Homo sapiens: one gene and its partner. The protein of the gene in region 2 purifies or fractionates together with the protein of the main gene of each other region. This does not show direct contact. Each region holds a gene or a part of one and is shown on either strand. Other genes may lie near its edges.

Region 1 (10,901 bases), on a different chromosome or scaffold from region 2:
CTGTTAAAGTAGTAATAGCATACATCTCTAAATTCAGACTAAGATACTTTCCACAGCCTAGCTACTCATGTCACAAATTTCACACAAAAGTCAGCAAAATCTGCATTCGCCTATGTGATTTAGACACATTACTCAATTCTATCAAATCAAATGACCTGAGTTATAAAATCTAAAGGTCTTTAAGCCCTTGCCCATAAGACTGTGCTTCATAAATGTACTCAACAGCCTTCCTATTATAGTTTAGTATTTTGCATTAAAACAAACCTTTGATGATAAATTGCAAACTGTGAGCTGGTTATACTGTAACAAGTCCTACTTCCTGCTGCAGGCAGTCTACTTTGGGTAGCCATACTGATTAGACCAACTACCCTCCAACTTAATCCTGGATTTTTTCAGGAAACAATCCACTCATAAACTTGAATATTTCAGCAGCAACCACTTCTGGAACTGCAATTCTGAGAGCCTGACTGCCTCTCTGTAACCAGCCTGTAACGCTGAAAGGCCTTTTTCTCCCCTCTCCTTCATCTCCTGAAACTACTGCTTTAGGAAATGGGTCCTCCTTGTTGCTTAGACAGTCTGTACATCTATAACATAAGGTCTAGTCTCAATGGAGTAGTAATACTTTAATGCTTAGAATAATTTTAAACAACTCTATTTTTCTCTCTTTTAATTGAAACAAAGATAATTTTCAAAATCTTAAGAAGTGATCTTTGTTGGAAAATATGTACTTCAGTTCACAAGCCCCACATCTTGCCTTATGTTTCTATAGACCTTACTTTCTCATAGTTCTTTCAAATTCCAAATATATTTCCAAAATTTTATTCCAATATGCATTTTATTTTTTCACACTGCTTTCACATTAATATATAAATTGATCTTAATGTTCAGACAATTTGACATAACTTCTCATTGATAAAAGATTTTTTCTAATCCAGAAAAAAATCTAAATGGTTTTTCAATATGAATTTATTGAGGGATAAACTTAAGATTCTAGAACTTCAGTTTAGAACTTTGAGGTATATTAATTTATCTGGATAATAATAATAGTACTGGTAGTTAATCTATAGAGAACACTTTCTGTGCCTGGTATAATATATAAATTATGTTTAATTCCCAAAATAATCAAGTTTTATGGGTATAAATACTACTCTGATCTTATAGGTGAGAAAATGAAAGCATCCAGTGTGCGGGTAAGGTCACACAAAGAGTTTGTAGGCCAATACACAAATCCCAGAGACCAGGCTCAATTTCCACTCTAACTTGCTTCCTGAATGACCATCTGGTTCTTCCTAATTTCTATGTGATTATGACACTCAAAAGAAATTCACTTAAAATCTGGGCAACAGAGCTGCGCTGTGACCCCCACCTCACCCCGCAGAACATGAAGAATGCAATAAATATTAAGGTCAAGTTTTATATTCTAAATTTACAAATTAGTTTAACTATTTTTCCTCCCAGTTTCTTATATTAATTGAAAGTATGTTTACCAGTGCATTAAGACCACCCTTTGCTGACTTTACCTTTCCTACTAACATTAAACAGCCAAAACATGAATTGTTTCTTTAGCAATATATTCAAGGTGTTTAATCCAAATAACACTCGGTATCATGCATTTCCCTGAGACCTTTAAAATAAAGTGAAATTTTGGAAATCCCTTTAAGTTTATGCATCTTCCTCAGTATGTCATTCCAATTGATACTTGATTATGATATGAAGTATCTCAGAGTGCCCAGGGACAATTAGCAGGGCTAAAGGACCAAAATCCAGGTAGATTTTTCAGCTCACCAGAGGTTTTACTATGGGACTCTACTTTATCCTGTTCATGCTCACTAAAGAATAACATTCCAGACAGCTTGTATATTTTCAGAGAAGCAGGTGCTAAAGCCTTCTTAGAGGGTGCAATCAGACTGGCAAATGTATCTACTCTAATTTGGCCGATTTTTCAGCAGGCATTCACTGATTTCTGGGCATAGTTGGACAGCTCCCTTTACAGAAGGAAATTCTACTCCAAGGCACTCACCTAGACATATACCAATTTTTTTTAACCTATTGAAAATTCCTGAATTTTTCCAGTGCTTCATGCAATCACTTCAAAGTGTTAAGATTGAAATATTTTGACTCTTTTTTTTCACTTAAGTTCCAAAATTTGGGCAGACTTTTGAGATAATTTACATTGTGGCAGACTATTTACAGAACTCTGGAATAATAATGATGATTGTGATAAAAATAATTTTTATATTTGTTGAGAATATTAATTTTAAGAATGTATTAAGATATTGGAAAAAAAGAGCCAGTCAAGATTTACTTGAATTAATGTTAGCATAAAGATGATATGGACTTATTTTGGTCCGTTTATTCAACCACTCACTACCAGTGTAATATCCATCTTGGTCATAGGCATAAACTCTATGTAGCATAATGCCAAACCCAATAATAGTAGATATTCAATTAATATTGGGGATGCAAATGAAGAATGTGTATACTGCTAATGAAGTCACTACTCATGGGATCAAGCTAACATTTTTTAAAAATCTGTTGAAGTAAAGAGGATGTGAGCAGTGGGAAAGAGAAAATGTCTATTCTTTATTATTTTCCATTGCTCTACTTCCAAAATAATGCAAATTGCCCACTGTCTTTTCTGGTCATGCTGTGCATTTGGGGGAGGTGGGGCTGGGGTGGGGGGGCCGGTGGGTGGGTTTGTGTGTGTGTACCGTTGGTCCACTTAGTTTTACTACTTTCAAGCTTTAATTGACCTTACTTCCAACTAAGGAGACATATGTTCAAATCATTATTAGCTGTCTTCAATTATTTGCAAACATCAATGTAATATAGAAATCAATAATGAATTCACTCTCAGAAACAAGAAATTTCATGCTTATCATATCTACTAGACATCTGGTTGGACTGTTGTAAGTCCATTGACTGGATTACCAGTTTTGCTGGACCGTGTAGTTTGACCAGAACAAACAGACTTACTAATTCCTACCTTCTCACTAAAAGTCATAGTGATAACTGAAGGAAGAAGAAGCTTAATTCTAAATTCTAATTGTAATAATGATGAAAATATAAACTCTAATGGAGTTGGATAGGAAGAACATAGCATTATACTCTAGGGAGTCTCTGATCTGGCAACAATTAAAGTCTTAAGACTTTAAGTATTTTGAGTTCCAGATGTCCATATCTAATTAACACAAATTGAAGGCAGAGGTAGTTGTGTTACAAATGATGTGACATAACTTTCAAACCTGACAAAGTGCATTGAAAACAGATTAAAGCAGGCTCTTAGCTCATACTGGCATGAAATAAGACCATCCTATATGGCACAGAGGTGGTGCAGGTATTTACATGTGTTATTAAATTGAGTTTTGTTGTTTCTCATTAGGAGAAATTACTACAAACTGATCAGAATGCTCTTTGGAGAAGAATACACCCTCAGGTATATCATTTTCTGTTACAAAATAATTAAATAGATGTCTATTGCATGTCTTTTAGTTTGGTAATCTGGGAAATGGAATTGTTTCAGTTCTGCTTGAGATACCCATGGAATAGCATTCATTGAGTTACTGAAATGGTAATACTTTCAATCGCTGCCTTTTTTCTTCTATTGAAAATACTTTAATGCTATGTTATTGGAGTTCAGTATGATAGTTAAAATGGAGAGGCATAGTTAAATAATAGATTGTTCTGAAAAGTTACGCTTTCTGACAGTTTTTTTTTTTCCTATGACTTGTTTCTTTGAGCTCTTAGAAATGGCTGATGGCAGTTCTTTACTGGAGTGTTTTGGCAAGTGGTCATTGACTTTTGACAGTCTGTGATAATTCAAACAGCAAAGGGACATTTTATAATCCATAAGAATGCATTTGCTGTATTATTTTACAGGAGGAGTATTTTATAGAATGAGGAGGCAGTTCACCTCCCATTAGTCATCTGTGTGTTTCTTCATTTTCCATATTGTACCCAATCTGCAGTTCTTACTAGGACAAAGCATCCTTTTAAATTAACAAGAAACAAAGATCAAATAAAAAGCGCTGAATCAGACCCATTAACACCATATTAATTATGCAGTGAATACACAGTACTATTTACAGTGGACCTTTCTAAGACCAAACAATGATGTTAAAAACTCAGTTTATTCCAGGATTAGGCAAGCCTCCATAAATTTTCTATTTATCTTTAAATGCAAATGCTTATTCATTGCATAACATCGAAAGACATGGTTACTCCTACTTAGTCCTCCACAAACATCATTAGATATTTAGATGACCAATAATTTTTAATTGTGTCAATAAAGTCAGTGGAATGCTTGGCTCTGCAGAGACATAAGAATTCAAATACTTTAAGTAGACTAGATGGAAGAAAAACATATGGAGGGTAGAGTGTGAAGAGCTGTGAGCTGGGGAGAAGAGCTTGATAATTATTATTAAAATTATCTAAATGTGAAAAAATCTAGGTCTCTCTAAACATTCTTAATTCTTAGTGCTTGCAATGCCTCAGGTACCTTGAAATAGTTACCCATATGCCTGCTTATGTATTTCCGTTTTGTGTTTGTGTTTGTATGCGTGTTTGCCTAAGTGTAGTTTCTCCTGGCAGCAGCGTGTGTTTGGTGTACGTGTGCATATGTATGAGTACGAATTAATTACATATCGAAAACATGTGCATTAACGGCATCTGCAGTCCTCCCTCCCTGCTCCAGTCAGTCGGGATGTTTAGCACCGTCACTTGGTGTTAGGACCACTCGGAAGACCTGCCTGTCGGACGCCTGACTGTGGTTCCCGGGGGGCCGGAGCTCCAGGAGCCTGTACCATCTTTATCTGAAGGGGAGGAGAGAAGGAAAGGAGAAGGCATCCGAGCGAGGGTGTTCTCCTTCCTGCAGCCGGGTAGGGGGCAGCCAGGTTTGGAGCAGGGTTCTAGGATTACACGGCAAATCCCCAACTTCAGCACCGCGGACAGCATCACCTCCCGCCCAGGGAGAGGCGCGCGCCTCCTTGCTCCGCCCCCGCCCCAGCTGATGGACCCCGGCCGGTCGGCTCAGTCTCCCTTTTGCTTTCAAACGAGGCCAGGGCAGGGCAGAAGGGTTTTGACAGCCAGAGGGGTACGGTAAGGAGGAGGAAGAGGAGGAGGAGGCGGAGGAGGAGGAGGAGCCGAGGAGGGAACCGAGAAGGGAAGAGAAGGGAGGGCTTCCCTCCGCCTCGCTCGCCGCCCGGGCTCACAGGAGCTGGCGGCGGCGGCGGCGGCGGCGGCGTCTCCTGCTCTCCGCGGCTGTTGCTGCTGCTCGCGCTCCGCCGCCCGGGAGATGCTTCCTCGCGCGGCGCAGCGCTGAGGCCGTGCGTGCGCCCCGGCTGCGCTGCGCGCTCCCCACATACACAAGCTCTCCATGTGAGCTGACAGGCGAGTGGAAACCCCTCGAGTCACGCTGCCCGGCGGCGGAGGGAGCGCTCGCCCGCAGTGGCAACAGCTGCACCACCGTCCCCGTCGCTCTGCCTTCCTCTTCTGCAGCCTCTGCTCTTCTGATTACCTCCCTCCCCCGTCCTTTGGTGATTTTTTTTTTTCAAGAAGGAGAGGGCGGGGTAGGTGTCCGTTCCCTCCCCTCTTCCCCCTCCTTTGCCTTCTTGGTTTGAATTTCCTCCCCCGGCGTTGCACTGGCACACAGTGCAAGAGGCAATACCCGCACGGAGGGAGAACGAAGGCTGAGACTCCCCTGCCGCTCCAAGCCCGGAAGAACTGGAGCCTGGAGGGGGGTGAGGGGAGAAGAGGAAGCGGGAGGGGCTTGGCTTCCTCGCGTATTTGAGGACAGCCCATCTCCCTTCAAGAACCCTACGGAGAGTCGGACTGCATCTCCGCAGCGAGCTCTTGGAGCGCCGCCGGCCGGGAGGCGAAGGATGCAGGCGGCTCCGCGCGCCGGCTGCGGGGCAGCGCTCCTGCTGTGGATTGTCAGCAGCTGCCTCTGCAGAGCCTGGACGGCTCCCTCCACGTCCCGTAAGTAGCCGTCTCCTCGCTCTGCTCTGGAGCAGTTTCAGTGCGGCATTGATGTTTGGCACCAGGGTATCAACTCCGAAGTGCATCGCAGTGCTGGCACCCTGATGTGTTTGTGTCTCCGCTGTCACACACTTGCAGCCACTGCAGTAGACAAACTCGAAACCCAGCGTTTCTGTTTTGGAAGAGACAGGGTTGTGACGCTGGTGATGTTTCTGGAAAGTTGTTCCTGGTCTTGGTGATCGGTTGGCAAGAGCTTGGCTAGAGAGACTGATGTAGATGGCAGCTTCTTAGGAGTTGTTTGTGCAGGGAGAGTTAACTGCATTTGGCTTAGGTAGGTCAGTGAATGAAAAGTGAAGACCATGGCAAAACCAAGTTTCTTATTTTTATTTATGGTTATAACTTAATGAGCACGGGGTTGAGGTTAACAAGAGGAGCATGTTTTAAACAGTTTGGGCACCTATAGGGTCTCTTTAACCTCTCCCGTTCCCTTAAAAAGTTAATGCCCATTTAGTACTTGCTTATTAAAATGGAAGGCAGCGAAATTGTAACTGAAATTGCTTTAATTCTTTGATACTTTGATATCATGGATATGACTGATGCAGTACGGTACTTGGGACACTCAGTGCAAAGCGTCGTTAATGTAGTAATAAACAGATTCTTAATAGGGTTTTCAGGAAAATAATTATATTCAATATGTATATCTCTGCATTTTAATCAACTGTGTGTGTGTGTTTGTGTGTGTGTGTGTTTAAGACTGCCCCTGTTTTCATGAGGTTTAGAAAGAAATGGAAGATTCTGGCCCATTTTCTGCATTCCTTTAGAAGTGCATACTGTGCATGTAGAGAGGAAATGCATGATTGTTCCTTTGGTTCAGAAAGAGTTAAACACTAGAAAGACTGCCTATAGGAATCTTAGGATAATATTCATAAGCGCATACTAGTTTCTGAGAATGAGTAAGTTGATAAAGAATTATCGTGGAGATTTCAGAGTTTAAAAGGAAGATTTTTTTGTCCATTTAGGAAAAGAAAAGTTTAATATTTTCCAGAATTCGTCATATGCGAAGTAGTCTTTGTTTCTAAGATTTTGGGATGTATTAATGCATCTTTGTTAATAATGATCTTATTGTAGTGGTAAATATCAACAGGAATAGCATTGAAAAAGGACATTATAAGTTGTAATAAGGAATCTACTATATAATATCCGGTTATGAGCCAGTATTACTGTTTTGACATATCTTCCTAAGTACAGTATTAGCTTTTCTTTTCCCACAATGTGTAAAGATAAGGAGATAAACTAACTGGCAATCTAAGTTTGTAATGAACTTGAAAACATTGTATAGCATTTTTTATAACACAAGTTAAATCACAAAGAGTTAAATATTGTTAATATTTATGTCAATTTTATAAATTTAAACAAATTTTGGGGATATAATGCTTGCTGTTGATATTTACACAAATATGTAACTCTATCACTGGGAAACTAGTTTGATGAAATTTCTGTTTCCATTTCAAGGTCTGGTTGTATAGAATTTCCTGCCACTTTTCCTGGAAAATAAACTCCTCATATATTAAATTTATTATATTCACTGATTGAAGGTCCTCATATCCAGGGTTTTTCCTGGGTTCTGTGTTCCATCATTCTGTATACTTTAATTTTGATGGGTCCATCTGAAACATCTGCCATGAGTAGCAAATGGAACACTGGCAGCCCTTGGGTTAATGCATTTTAAGATAAAAAAGTTGTTATTTCATAAATATTTTCTGAGTTTTCAACTTTATAGTTAGAATTTGAAGACAGAGAACATAGAAACAATTACTTTTAAGATGGTTAATAGTTATGGCCATTAAGATTTTTTATTAACTTGGCTTTCATTCTCTATTGTTTAAAAATGTGTAATGGCTTAATTAAGGTGGCTTTTTATTTCGTTTGAATTTAAACTGTGTGACCAAAATGCAAAGTTGCCCTATATCCTGGAAATGAATTAAATAATAAGGATGCTACAGAACTTTATTGATTAGAATGAGTTTCATGGATTCAGTACTTTAAATATCAACTGTACTTTACATTAATGAACATTTTTATTTACATTATATATAGCTCTGAAGAAAAGTATGATAGTTATATTCTTAATATAAAACATTCAAAGGAGAAAAAGATGGAAACTACATGAATCTAAGATAATGAGCAACTCAACCAGGAGAGGTCATCACAAGACAAAAAGTAGCATGAAAATCTAAAACTATCATTTTTCTTTGGTACACATTTTTAAAATGTGATGAGTATGCTAAAACTTTCTGTTCCTAAATACCTTTTTAATATGAGGGACAGAAGATGTTTATTTCACAACAACTGCATTTCAAATATGTATTTGCTTATGACTTATTTCTTTTTCTCTGTCGACAGACATATAAAAACTGTTAATACTATGTGTTGTACAAGCAGACTAGAATAAACTTGAAAACAAAGCTCATCACTATGGTTATGTAAAAATATAATCTAATTTCTTTGCAGATAGCGAAAATGAACTGCTGCTGAGCTGATGTAACAAATCGTGTATCTTCCCTTCCTGTAAATGTAGATACACGGGACACACGTGGGAAGTTTAAAGAAAATATTTCACTCTTAGGGAGTTGCATTTATTTGAACATATTATAAAGACCTTGATGGTGCAGTTCTAAATGATGAGGAGATTAAGCTAGCGCTTAATAAATTCACTTTTTAGAGTTAACTGAATTTTCACTTAAATAAATGATCTCTCATAAAGGCCAATTTACATCATTTAGTAGAACTATTAACCTATAATTTCATTGACCAACACATTTGGGAAATGTGTTTTGAATTAATTCACATATTCTCTAACAAATACGATTTTATACGTGTATATATACACACACATGAATATATATGTGTATAAATATATATGTATTTGTTCATATGTTTTATAAAAACATTTGAATACATGTTATAAAGTACATAGATACATATTTAATATAGCACATATATTAAGTATTATATGTAAAAATGTGTATATTTATATATTTTCTAAAACACCATTCAAGGAATTTAAGTTGTTTACAAGTTTATAGAAAGGTCTTTTTCCAGTGCAATTATTTTAAGTAACTAACGCAACAATATTAAGCAATAGTATATTAGTCTATTTTCTCTTCCTCAATTCATATACTTCTCCCAAAATGGTGTATTTTAAATGTAAAATATGTAAATGCATATAAAAGCAAATACTGCTGGTTTATAGAGACCTTGAACATAATAATGAACTTGTCTTAATGAAAACAATTTAAACTTAAAAGGAGCTTTAGGCAAGCAAAATTCATTGGTTGATAAAGCATAGCACATTATTTGCTTAATGCAACTAATAATTATTAACTAATTGGAGAGAAATGTATAATCTCGATTTTATTATAGGCACGGATATTCAGGAAGTAAGAATCATTGTTCAAATTTTACTCTTTACCATCAATATATGGCAAAATTGGGCAAAAAAATTAATCCACAAATTTAATTTAGGTCTTATTAACCTTTATGCAGTTATAAACCTACAACGTATCATTTTAGATGATATCAAAGTTGTTTGGTGCATATCATATTTTAAATCTTACAGTTATGTGCCCCATAATGACATTTCAGTTCAATGATGGACCACGTGTATGTTGGTGGTTCCATAAAATTATAATGGAGCTGTCATATATAGGTGTGCCATTTTTCATCTTGTATATTATATTTTTACTGTATCTTTTCCATGTTTAAGTATGATGAGATACACAAAGAGGCATTGTGTTATAATTGCCTATAGTATTCAGTGTAATAACATGCAGTACAGGTTTGTAGCCCAGAAGCAACAACCCATACCAAATAGTCTATGCTATGTGTGTAGTAGGCTACACTGTCTAGGTTTGTGAGTGTGTACTCTATGATGTTGGCACAAAGACAAAATTGCCTAAGGATACATTTCTCAAAATATATCCTTATTGTTAGGAAATGCATGATGATATATGTTTTTTGTCTATTTTAAGTGGGAAAACCTTTCAAGTTCTATAATTTCTTTGAGATTTAATTCACTGTTCCTTATTAGTAAATTCTTCTAGACAAAAACTTACTCAAATGTCTTAAAGTTTACATAAAGCTTCCTTTTTTTTTTTTTTTTTTTTTTTTTTTGAGACGGAGTCTTGCTCTGTCGCCCAGGCTGGAGTGCAGTGGCCCGATCTCAGTTCACTGCAAGCTCCGCCTCCTGGGTTCACGCCATTCTCCTGCCTCAGCCTCCCGAGTAGCTGGGACTACAGGCGCCCACCACCATGCCCGGCTAATTTTTAGTCTTGTGAATCTTTTTTATGATTGAAAGAGAAGAAATGTGACATGTCTACACATGTCATCTGTTTTTAAAAAGTAGATTTTTGTATTTGTTGTAAATGGTATACAGAATCAGGAGAGAATCTAGGCTCAGAAATTCTTAATTCAAATGTGCTTTTCTTTAAAATATTAAACATATGGAGATCCAACTTGTGCAAGTTGTCTGTTTAGTGATTGATGTCAGTGGGATGAAGAAATAAAACATGTACTTTAAAGATTTTCCCATCTCTAGTCCTGATTTGTGAAGTGCTTTACTTTATCATTTTTTACTACTTGCAAAGTTATAAAACAGCGTATATAGTAATTTTAAGCCTCAAAACCAGTGTTGTGTGAAATAAAATAAATTTTTATATTTATATCTGTACCAGTATCTGAAACTGGCTGTTACCTGTTTCTAGAGAGACACATATTTTAAGATAAGTAGTTATCAGAAACATAAGGTATATTTCTACAACCAGTATTGGGCTGCTGAAATAAATTATATGCTTATTTTTGCCATTTTAATAAGTAAGAATAATGATGCAATCATTTATATACAGCTGTTAATTTTCAAATGAAAG
Region 2 (10,439 bases):
TGTGCCTGTAGAGCACCGTAAGATGGGAACCCCTTCAACTGGGCCCTGGGTTTGCCCCCCAGTGGTCCCTCTGAACATAGGCTTTGGAGTCAGGCAGTCCTGAAATCAAATCCCACCTCTGCCATTTACTAGCTGTGCTTCCCTGGGCAAGTCACTTAACCTTTCTGAGCCTCTGATTCTCTTCTCCATGAAGATAATCATGTTTCTCTCAGAGGCCATAATGAGAATGAAATTAGACAAGACGGTGGTTAGTATAGAGCAGATGATGCACACATGATCATTGTCCTCCTTACTCCATCAACTTAAACTAAATCACAGAGACCAACTCTCACTCGCTTTAAAATAAGGGGAATAAATAACCCAGAACTGCAGTTAATGCAAACAAACAAACAAACAAACAAACAAACAAACAAACAAAACAAACTACTTTTGGGCTCCAGGGTGATATATTATCTATTTTTCTTTTTGTTGCAGATTTAATCTCCTAATTGTCTCTAGTATTAAACAAGGCTGATATTAAAACAGGAATTTATTTCATCAGCTCCTGCAGCTTGGCAGAAAGTAACTTGGCTGGGGGTCAAAATATTTCCGTAGAGAATCCAGCAGCTGGAGATTTTTCACTTGCTTCTGATGACAATAGTTTAGGACCGTGTAATTTGCAAGAGGTACTTAAACACATTGGCCATTTGATCCTGTGAGGTGGGTGTTATTATTGCCCTTTTCAGGGTGGAAAGACTGAGGCCCAGAGCAGTTAATCAACTTGCCTAAGGTCACACAGTTAATACATGGCACAGGTAGAATCTGAACTCAGCCCTTCTCATTTTAAAGCCCATCATGTTTCCTTTGCATCACAGCTGTCTTTGTGCTCCTCAGCTACTGGGATGCTGTAAATAGAATAAAGGAGTCCCCTCATTTCTCCACATTTGACCCTCCAAGAAGTTCAGGATCAATCAAAGAAAGTGCTGCCTCTGGAATTTCTTACTCAGGAGAGGTACCAGCTAAAAATGTTGAGTGATTCTAGAAAAAGGGCCTGGAGAGTCAGTCTGGGGCATGTAGGAGAACATGTTTCAGGCAGACAAGAAGGTGGACCCTCACTACACATCCAGTGCAACAGGTCTGTAGAGGAGGTGAGGCAGGGTCCTTAATCTATGCTCCTGGTCCCAGGATCCCCGGGCTCTCATTCCAGGCCTTCCCCTGCGAATGGCTCGGAGATGGGCAGGAGCCTCTCAGCAGATGCTGACTGGAGCCTGTGCCTCCCCTACTCTCTCCTGGGTTCTTTTCTCCCCCTCCTTCTCCACTCAAGTTCTGACACCCACACGCTTTTTGCTGAGGGTTGTGGGCAGGTTATTCAATTCCATCTGCTCCCAAAGAAACCATCTAAAGGCTTGGAGACACTGGCTGCTTCCCTAGCCCCCTGCACAGAACACACACACATCTTTCACATCAACTGATTTCCTTTTTTTCTTTCTTTTTTTTTTTTTTTTTTTTTTTTTTTTGAGATGGAGTCTCGCTCTGTCGCCCAGGATGGAGTGCAGTGGTACAATCTTGGCTCACTGCAACCTCCACCTCCCGGGTTCAAGCGATTCTCCTGCTTCAGCCTCCCGAGTAGCTGGGATTTACAGGTGTGTGTCACCACGCCTGGCTAATTTTTGTATTTTTAGTAGAGACGGGGTTTCACCATGTTGGCCAGGCTGGTCTCAAACTTCTGACCTCAGGTGATCTGCCTGCCTCGGCCTCCCAAAGTGCTGGGATTACAGGCTTGAGCCACTGCGCCCAGCCAGCATTAACTGATTTCTGTAGTGCATACTCTTCCAGGAAGACATCTGTCTACCACCCCATGGTCCTGGGTTCAAGTCCAAGCTCTGTCAATGTGACTCTTCCTTTCTCCGAACTTTGGTTTTTCCACTTTTAAAAATTAAACTTAAAAAAATTATAGATGCACATGCAGTTGTAAGGTTGGCCAGTTTTTAAATGAGGAGTTTGGACTAGATGGTTTGTCCATGCAGTGGCCCTGGTCCCAACTTGGTGTTCTGTCCTCCTCTGTTTTGTGAGAGTCTGAACCCTGTGAGCAGGGTTGGAACTCAGCATAATTGCGGCTGGCTTGGCATTCCCTATAAGTGGTGCCAGGGTCTCTGCCCTGATGATAGCTTTTTGGGACACACAGGACTCTCACCTGCTTCCCTGGTCCGGATTTTGCTGGAGGGCCCACTAGGCTCCCCAGTGCCCAGAATGTTGCTGGCTATGACCCGGAACTCATAGTCCATCCAGGGGGTGAGGCCCAGCACCTGTGCAGTCTCGGCATTGCCCTCGATGTTTGCAGGATCTGCAAGGCACCAGGGAGTCCATATTCCAGCATTCGCTTATTCATCTGGGTGCAGAGGGCAGGCACTGGCCTGAATCACCCCTTATCTACCCAGCCCTCACTTCGGTACTTGCCATATACTAAGCACTCAGTACCTTTTTCAGAAATGATTGAAAAACTACTCAATTTCCCTATCTTGGTGCCTCTGCAATGCTGTGTGCACGCCTACGCCCCTATGTCCCCATGAATATTTTCATTGCTCCAGTAACAATCCTACCAATTCTTCAAGGGCATAGACCAAGCGCCTCCTCTTCTAACTCTTTCCCGACTCTCCTACTTTCTGTGTGACTGTCTTCCTGCCTGCCTGCATGCTCTCTGCTGGCAGAGGACAGATCTTGTCCCTCTTTGAAGCTCCAGGCTCAGCCCTGGCCCTCAGACCCCGATCCCCAAACCTTGACCCTTTCCACCTCCTACACCCAGTCGAGCCTTATCAGCACTGACCCAGGTGGGGCTCACACTTACTGGTCCGAACCTGCTTCCACTTCCCTGCAGGTGGAGTGCGAGCTTGCAGGGTGTACTTAGCGATGGGGCTGTGGTTGTCGAAGCCACGGCTCCAGCTGAGCTGGATGGTGGTGTCGCCAATGTCCCTCACCACCACACCTCCTGGGGGACCTGGCGGACCTGCACCAAGAGGTCAGAGCACAGTGGGTCAGAATTGGGCAGCTTCCAATTTGAGCCAACCTCCTCCCAGCCAGGCTTGAGCTGGTACAGTACCAAGACAGGGCAGCAGAGGATGCAGTGAACACACACCCAGGCGGGAGGGCGGGCAAGGGGTGTGGGCAGTTGGGGCGGGTGCCAGTTGTTGGGTGGAGGGATGTGTCTCAAGGCTGGGGGAGCTCACAGAGGCTGTCACATGGAGAGGTGCATAGATCTCCCAGCACTAGGCTTTGAAAACTTCAGGGCTCAGTAAAGCACTCCTGTCTTGGGATGTGTTTAGGAGTGGATTTTTTAAACTTTGACTTTGGAAGAAAAATGTCCTGATCATTTAGGACCTGTGAAGAACCACAGGGTATATCCAGCTCACAGGAGTTCCGCCGGAAGCCCTTCCCCGCAGCTTTGAGGGAAGGGAGGGGAGATGAGGCGAGCAGGTCAGAACAGCCCAGCTGGGTTTTAAGGGAGTTGGGGTAGGGGTAGAGGTGGGAAACCCCTCACCTCGGACCAGGACTGTGGCCTCCTTGGACGCGCTGTCCACCACCGTCTGGGCCATGCACGTGTACTTCCCCCCATGGCGCAGCTGGGCGTTCAGGATGGTCAGATCCCCAATGGTCTCCTTCTGCACACGGGGACAGTTAGGGGCAGCAGGTCAGACCACCGGCCCTGACCAGTGCAGCAGGCCATGAGACATGAGGCAGCGCTTGGGAGTCCCCTACTCCATGACATCCATGGACCCCACTGGATCTCAGTTTTCCTGTCTGCTCAATGGGAGGAATCACGACTCATCACTTAGAACCACTGGGGACTAAACAGCAAAGTTTGTTTCAGGAGACAGTCAATGACTGTCCACATTAATAATATCATTTGCCCTAGGGGACAGGCTAACAAGAACAGTAGTGGGAGTGTCTTGGTGGCTGCCCACAACTCCAGGTTTGTCCCTAACCCTCTCCTAAATGCATGGTCCCTGGGTGGAATCCAGGAAGGTCAGCTGTTCATCCAAGGATGAGCTTGCCATGTGTGGGCCTGAGGGAATGGGGGCGCTTAGGCTATGGGTTTCTTAAAGGTGAGGATGGCTAAGGACATCTTGGGGCCCCTGTCTCTCTAGAAGGAGGGAGAAGCCATGGGGCTCTGGCCCTAGGTCTCACCACATTAGTTCTCCGGTAGTGCCCTCCAGGCTTATCAAAGTCGATGGGGAAGTCGTCCAGGGTCCAGGTGAAGGTGAGGTCCATGGTGGGGTCGTGGGAGGCATGGCACTGTAGGGTCAGGTTGTCACCCAAGTTGATGTCGGCACTTGAGGGGGCTAGAGTGATTTTGGTTGCATCTGCCAAGAAAAACAAGGCCCTTGGGTGGATGGGGGAGGAAATGGGCCCAGGCCGGGTCCGCAGGGCAGGCTGAGAGGCTCTGTCCTAAGGCCCAGCAAAGAGAAGAGGTGGTGTGACCCACAGGTCCCAACTGCCCAGGACTGCATGAGTGTGTGGCAGGCAGGGAGGCATGACCAGAGTCTCAGTGGTGGCCAGGGGGTGGTCCCAAGCAAAACTGAATCCTGGGGTGGCCTTGACACCAAACTAGGAGCAATGTGGACACAGGAGCAGGATGATGGGGAGGACAGTACCCTGAGGAGGCTGAGCCCCCGGCCTACCCACATGGCAGCCCTCACCTCGCACAGATAGGATTCCAGTGCTGTTGGCTTTGCCCATGAAGTTCTCAGCAAAGCAGGTGTATTTGCCTTCATCTGACCGGCTGATGTTTCTTATGATCAAGGTGCCATCTGGAGTTACAGTCACTCTGTGGCAAGGACAAGGCAGATGTGGCCAACTCAGGCATGGTTGTCCCTGGGGCTGGCCAACTCCTGTGACTGTTGTCACAGGAGGGGAATTGGCCTCCATGGAGAATGAGGAGGAGCAGGAACTGTGCAGGGTGGGGTGTGGGTGGTACCTGCTGCTGTTGACCAAAATCTCCGTGCCTTTGCTCCAGAGCACCACGGCCTTTGGAGCTGCCCGGGGCTGGCAGGGGATAAGGATCTCTCCCCCGCGGGCCGCGGGGATCAGACGCCTCACGGGATTCAGCCTGAAGTCAGGGGCGAGTGCTAGAAGGAAAGGGGAGAGCCACAGAGAAAAGTACTGTCACCCTTGATTAAGACGTTACTTGGCGTGCCCTTTGAAGCCACGCCATGAGTGACTCCTATTAGCACCTCTTCCAGAATGCATCCAGAACCAAGCCCTTTTTTCTCTGGCCTAAGCTATCAAATCTCCCGCCTGGACTATTGACAACGCGCCCCCCCTCCGCCCCTCACCACCACCCCTGCCACCCCACATCAGTCTTCCTGTTTCTGCACCTTCCTTCTACAATCTTTTCTCCACCCAGTTGGGAATGAACAGCTTTTTCAACTCACACTCAGTGAAGCCCGGCTCTTCACAAATAAGTCTCCACCTTTCCAATCGCATCTTGCTCCACTCTATCCCCCATTCATTATGTTCCAATCACCTAGCCTTTTTTTTTCTCTCTCTCTCTCTTTTGAAGTTGTGAAGTCTTTTCCTGCCTCCAGAGCTTTGCACTTGCTGTAAATCTTGCCTGGAAATTCCCCAGATCTTCACGCGGCTGGCTTCTTAACATTCAGGTCACAGTCTAAATGAGACTTCCTCAGAGAGGACTTCTCTGACCACCCCACCTAACAGGCCCATCTCACGCCCATCACTCTACTGGGTTTTCTTTTCTTTTCTTTCTTTCTTTCTTTCTTTCTTTTTCTTTTCTTTTCTTTCTTCTTCTTTTTTTTTTTTTAAAAGACAAGTCTTGCTGTGTTGCCCAGGCTGGAGTGCAATGGCACAATCTCAGTTCACTGCAGCCTCTGCCTCCAGGGCTCAAGTGATTCTCCTGCCTCAGCCTCCTGTGTAGCTGGGACTACACGTGTGTGCTACCATGCCTGGCTAAATTTTGTGTTTTTCATAGACATGGGGTTTCACCATGTTGCCCAGGCTGGTCTCAAACTCCTGAGCTTGAGGAGATCCACTCACCCCTGCCTCCCAAAGTGCTGGGATTACACAGGCATGAGCCACTGCACCCTGCCTGGATTTTCTTTATACTATATTTGATGGCTAGCTGAAATTATTTAATTGTTTGATTTGGGGTTTATTTGTCCCTTTCCCTCTACTGGATTGTAAGCTACTTAAAGGCAGAGACCGTATCTTTTATATTCATCCCTGTGAAGTGTTGAGTAAGTAGTGGTTGAATGGATGAAGGAACGAATGAATGCTTCTTAGCAAAGCTTCACTAAAACCTGATGTGGTGGGTATCACTGTGTCCATTTTATGGATGAGGAAACTGAGGCTCAGTGAGCTCAAGTCACACAACTAAATATTAGCACTGGCTTACATTTCCCGGGCACCTGCTGTATGGTGGGCAGGCCCTTTATGCTGTACCTCTTTCATCTCACTTGTTCCATACAGCAGCCCAGGAGGGCAGGACTATTATTGCCTATATTTTATAATCAAGAAACTGAAACACAGAAACACTAAGTAACTTGCCAAAGCTCACATAGCTGAAAGGGTTGGGTTACACAAATCTGATTGATTTGGTTTCTGTTTTTTTCACTCACTGCAGCAAACATTTACTGTGTGCCAGACATGGAACAAGTCAGAGACCCTGCCCTCTGGCAGCTGTCAACCCTGTGTCTCATCTCCTTTCTTAAATCTCTGAGTTCTCCTACTTAGAAACTGTTGGAAAACCAAGGAAAATGGCCACAGGGTATGTGCATGTGTGTTTGGAAACACCTAAACTCAGAGCTCTGAAAGCCACCATATGCATGTCCTTGGGATGTCCCCTGCCTCCCTGGGCCCCTTACCTTGCACGGCTAGCTCGGCGCTGGCGTAGATGGTACCGTGCTTATTCTCTGCCACACACTGGTACATGCCCGAGTCTTCCAGGCTCAGCTTGGAGAACCGCAGGTCCCCAGCCAACACCTCCACCCGGTTCTGTGCAGAAGAGCCCAGAGCCCAGGGGGATCAGGACCACAGGAGCCACAGGGAGGAGGGGTTGGCAGGGGTGGGAGCAGTGGAGACTCTAGGCTGATAATCCCTAGAGGATATGGCTTATATGTCCAGTCCTACCTCAGGGCTGCCTGGAACCTCAGGATGCAGATTACCCAGGCCTCCCCAAAGCTGGAAGGGTGAGGTGACCCAGTCAGGACCACATCACTTCTTTTGTGGCTGAACTGTGCCTGGATCCAGGCCTAGCCTGTGACAATGGGACTGGGATGGGAAGAAGTCCTTAGGTGGTCCTAGGACCACCCTCTGACACCCTAATTAGCCCAGAGGGGCTACTAGTGGTGCAGGGGAAGTTCTGGGCGGGGGAGGGAACCAAGTGAGCAGAGGACAGTTGTGATGTGTCGGGGGAAGCCCCATGTCTCCTACCTGGGAGGCCAGAGGCTCCCCGTTCCGCAGCCAGCGCACTGTAGGCCGGGGCTTGCCGGCGGCTGCACAGCCCCAACGCAGGTTGGAGCCAATGTCAGCCTCTGTGTCCGAGATCACTTTTAGCCACTCAGGCTGAGCTGTGGGAGCCCGGAAAAGAAAACCTGGCATGAGCTAGGAGGAGCTTCCAGCTCATTAAAAGGAACAGAAAATCAGGGCAGCAGCACCTGTGCCAGACAGCAGAGGGCGCCATGAGCATTCTGAGATGGAGAGGACAAAGAGGAGGGGGCCGGAAGAAGGAGGCACAAGAAAGCTGGCACTCTGTGGCTGTGCCAGTGGCTGCTTTTGCAACTTAAATCATTCTGGAGCCTCCTGTGTGCTTTCTGCACCCCTGACTGAAGCTCTGAGGTGACCACAGCACTAGCCTCCTCTGGTCCCAGACTCAGTGCAGTCCTAGGGCAAGCAGGCTCATGCAGGGGGCCTCCCAGTCTCCTCCCTGACTTTTGGGTCTGTTTCCTTGGGGACAAGGGTGAAGGCGGGAAGGGGGGTCGGGAGGGGCGGAGAAGGTGTCCCTGGCTCTGTACCCTGCACGATGATGCGGCCCTGCACGGTGTCTCGGCCCTTGGAGTTCTCCGCCTCACACTCGTAGGTGCCCTCATCCTCAAAGCTGACGCTGGGGATCTGCAGGGTGGGCTCAGCTGTGGTCCACTGCGGGGACAGGGAGCCGTCCACTTTGCGCCACTTGATCCGGGGGACAGGGCTGGCAGGAGAGACAAAGCCAGAGGGTGTGGGCTGAGCTGGGCCTACCCCTCCAGTGCCCGCAGCTCCTCATACCCAGACTCTCAGGCCCTCCTGAGATGCTGGGCCTGGGAGGAACAGAGGGAGAGAGGGTGCCTTCTGGCTGATCCTCACTCTCCTCTCCCAGGTAGGCTCGGAGCACACGCAGGGAAGGGGCAAGAGGCAGGGCTGCTCTACCCATCCCCCCTGCAACAACCCTGGAGCCAGTGAAGCCGGGCTTCTGCGGGGTCTGCACCCTGAAGCTGGCCTGCCCTCTCCCGCACCGGTCACCATGCCTCTGGGTCTGCCCTCCGCCACAGTGGCCTGTGACCTGGGTCTTTACGGGTTCTCTTTTCCGTTGCCTCTACAGGGCAGGCCTTGCCCCTACTTTGAAAGGGACTTTAGTTAGTAGTAATCTGTGCACTAAAACGGACTGAGGTATCAGTTTTAATGGGTTAATATATTCCCCTTCCACATGCTTTTCTTTTTTTTCTTTTTTTTTTTTTTTTTTTGAGACGGAGTCTCGCTCTGTCACCTAGGCTGGAGTGCAGTGGGGCAATCTTGGCTCACTGCAAGCTCTGCCTCCCGGGTTCACACCATTCTCCTGCCTCAGCCTCCCGAGCAGCTGGGACTACAGGCACCCGCCACCACACCTGGCTAGTTTTTTTTGTATTTTTAGTAGAGACTGGATTTCACCGTGCTAGCCAGGATGGTCTCGATCTCCTGACCTCATGATCTTCCCACCTCGGCCTCCCAAAGTGCTGGGATTACAGACATGAACCACCGCACCTGGCCCCACTTCCACATGCTTTTCATGTGGATTTTCTGGAAGCCCAAAACTTCCCACAAGGCAGAGATTCTCCCAGGTAACCATAGGAGATAGTTGAGGGAGGAGGGGGCCAAAGTACAAATCACATTCTTTCTTTCATACTACAAACATTTATTGAGCACCTGCTATTTGCTTAGCCCTGTTCTAGTGACTCCTTCTTCTAGGAGTACGAGAAAGAGAACACTTTCTGCTGCCATTCTCAAATAGATCACTGTTAACATTCACGGAACACTTAACTAAATTCCAGGCACTGTTCTAAGTATCTCACATATATGAACTGATTTAATCCTCATGACAACCCTATGAGGTAGGTACTATTATCACCACCATAAAGAAACTGAGGCACAGAGAGGTTAGGCAGTTTACCCAAGGTCTGCGGGTGGCAGAGCTGGGATCTGAATGAGACAGACAGGGTTGGAGTCTGTACACTGTGCTGCCTGCCTCCAGCCCTGGGTGTTACTCAAGCTGTCTGAGCCTGCCATGCACTGCTGGAAGACCAAGTGATCCTGGCCATGGAAGGCCCCTGGCATATGCGATGCCTCACCCAGAGAGGTACTGTCCAGTGAGTGGTGGTCGATACCCACTGTGTGCCCAGTACTTTGCTAGACCCTGTGAGGGACACCAAGATAAGAGCCCTGACTCTGCCTGCCCTCACCCTGGGGTCACCTGTGCCCCCGAGAGACCGTGCTCTGCTTCCCCTCCCTCTTCACACTCACTTCCCAAAGGCGAAGCACTCCAGGGTGACCTGCTGCCCCACCAGTGCATAGGTCTCTGCTGGGAACCGGGCCTTGATGCTGGGTGCAAAGAGCCGGGTATCTGGGGAGAGAGGGTTTTACAAATCAGATGCAGATGACTCCAGGTCAGGTGCTCCCGTGCATGGGATCTCAGCACCTTTCAGAGCCAACTCTGTCTAGGCAGCTGTGTGGAATCTCCTTGAGGCCTGGGGCAAGGGCCTCAGGATTTGAAGCAGGAGGATCTGGGGGTCCAGGGCCTGGAATCAGTGCCCTGCAAGCTGATCTTCCAATCTCCAAAGGAAAAACCCTTTTCCTAATGCCCGCTGACCCTTCCAGTTCCCTCCCTCCAGCCACGCCTGGCCAAGCCTGACCTTCAGCAGCCAGGTTGAGCTGAGCAAACTTGCTGAAGACGCTCTTGGTGGAGAAGTCCATGTGGCTGGTGGCCAAACAGGAGTAGTTGCCCAGGTCTGAGGCATTGGTTCGGGCAATGTACAGGTTCCCTGTGGTCTGGGACACGAAGTGACGCCCGTCCGTCGGGATGAAGTTGGGGAACTCGTTGAGGAGCCAGCGGTAGGACAAGCCTAGGATGTGAGGAGTTTGAGGAAACCAGGGGGTGCTGGGCTAACAGGGCCACTCTGGGTGGGACCCCAGCATGCTGGTGCGGTTCTGCAAGCCCTGTC

What was found.
Region 1: the proteins of CNTN2 (region 2) and CNTNAP2 purify together in Homo sapiens (affinity purification with western blotting; 2 studies listed by BioGRID). This does not show direct contact.

What each region holds. Positions count from the first base shown.
Region 1 is NC_000007.14:146,110,998-146,121,898, forward strand, and holds the start of CNTNAP2 (contactin-associated protein-like 2 precursor), read left to right. Parts: upstream 1-5,803; 5' UTR 5,804-5,879; coding exon 5,880-5,976; intron 5,977-10,901. UniProt on the Homo sapiens protein: Required for gap junction formation. Required, with CNTNAP1, for radial and longitudinal organization of myelinated axons.
Region 2 is NC_000001.11:205,058,985-205,069,423, reverse strand, and holds part of CNTN2 (contactin-2 precursor), read right to left. Parts: intron 10,341-10,439; coding exon 10,131-10,340; intron 9,842-10,130; coding exon 9,742-9,841; intron 8,180-9,741; coding exon 8,004-8,179; intron 7,560-8,003; coding exon 7,423-7,559; intron 6,985-7,422; coding exon 6,855-6,984; intron 5,103-6,854; coding exon 4,952-5,102; intron 4,802-4,951; coding exon 4,674-4,801; intron 4,338-4,673; coding exon 4,162-4,337; intron 3,636-4,161; coding exon 3,515-3,635; intron 2,984-3,514; coding exon 2,825-2,983; intron 2,324-2,824; coding exon 2,174-2,323; intron 1-2,173. UniProt on the Homo sapiens protein: In conjunction with another transmembrane protein, CNTNAP2, contributes to the organization of axonal domains at nodes of Ranvier by maintaining voltage-gated potassium channels at the juxtaparanodal region. May be involved in cell adhesion.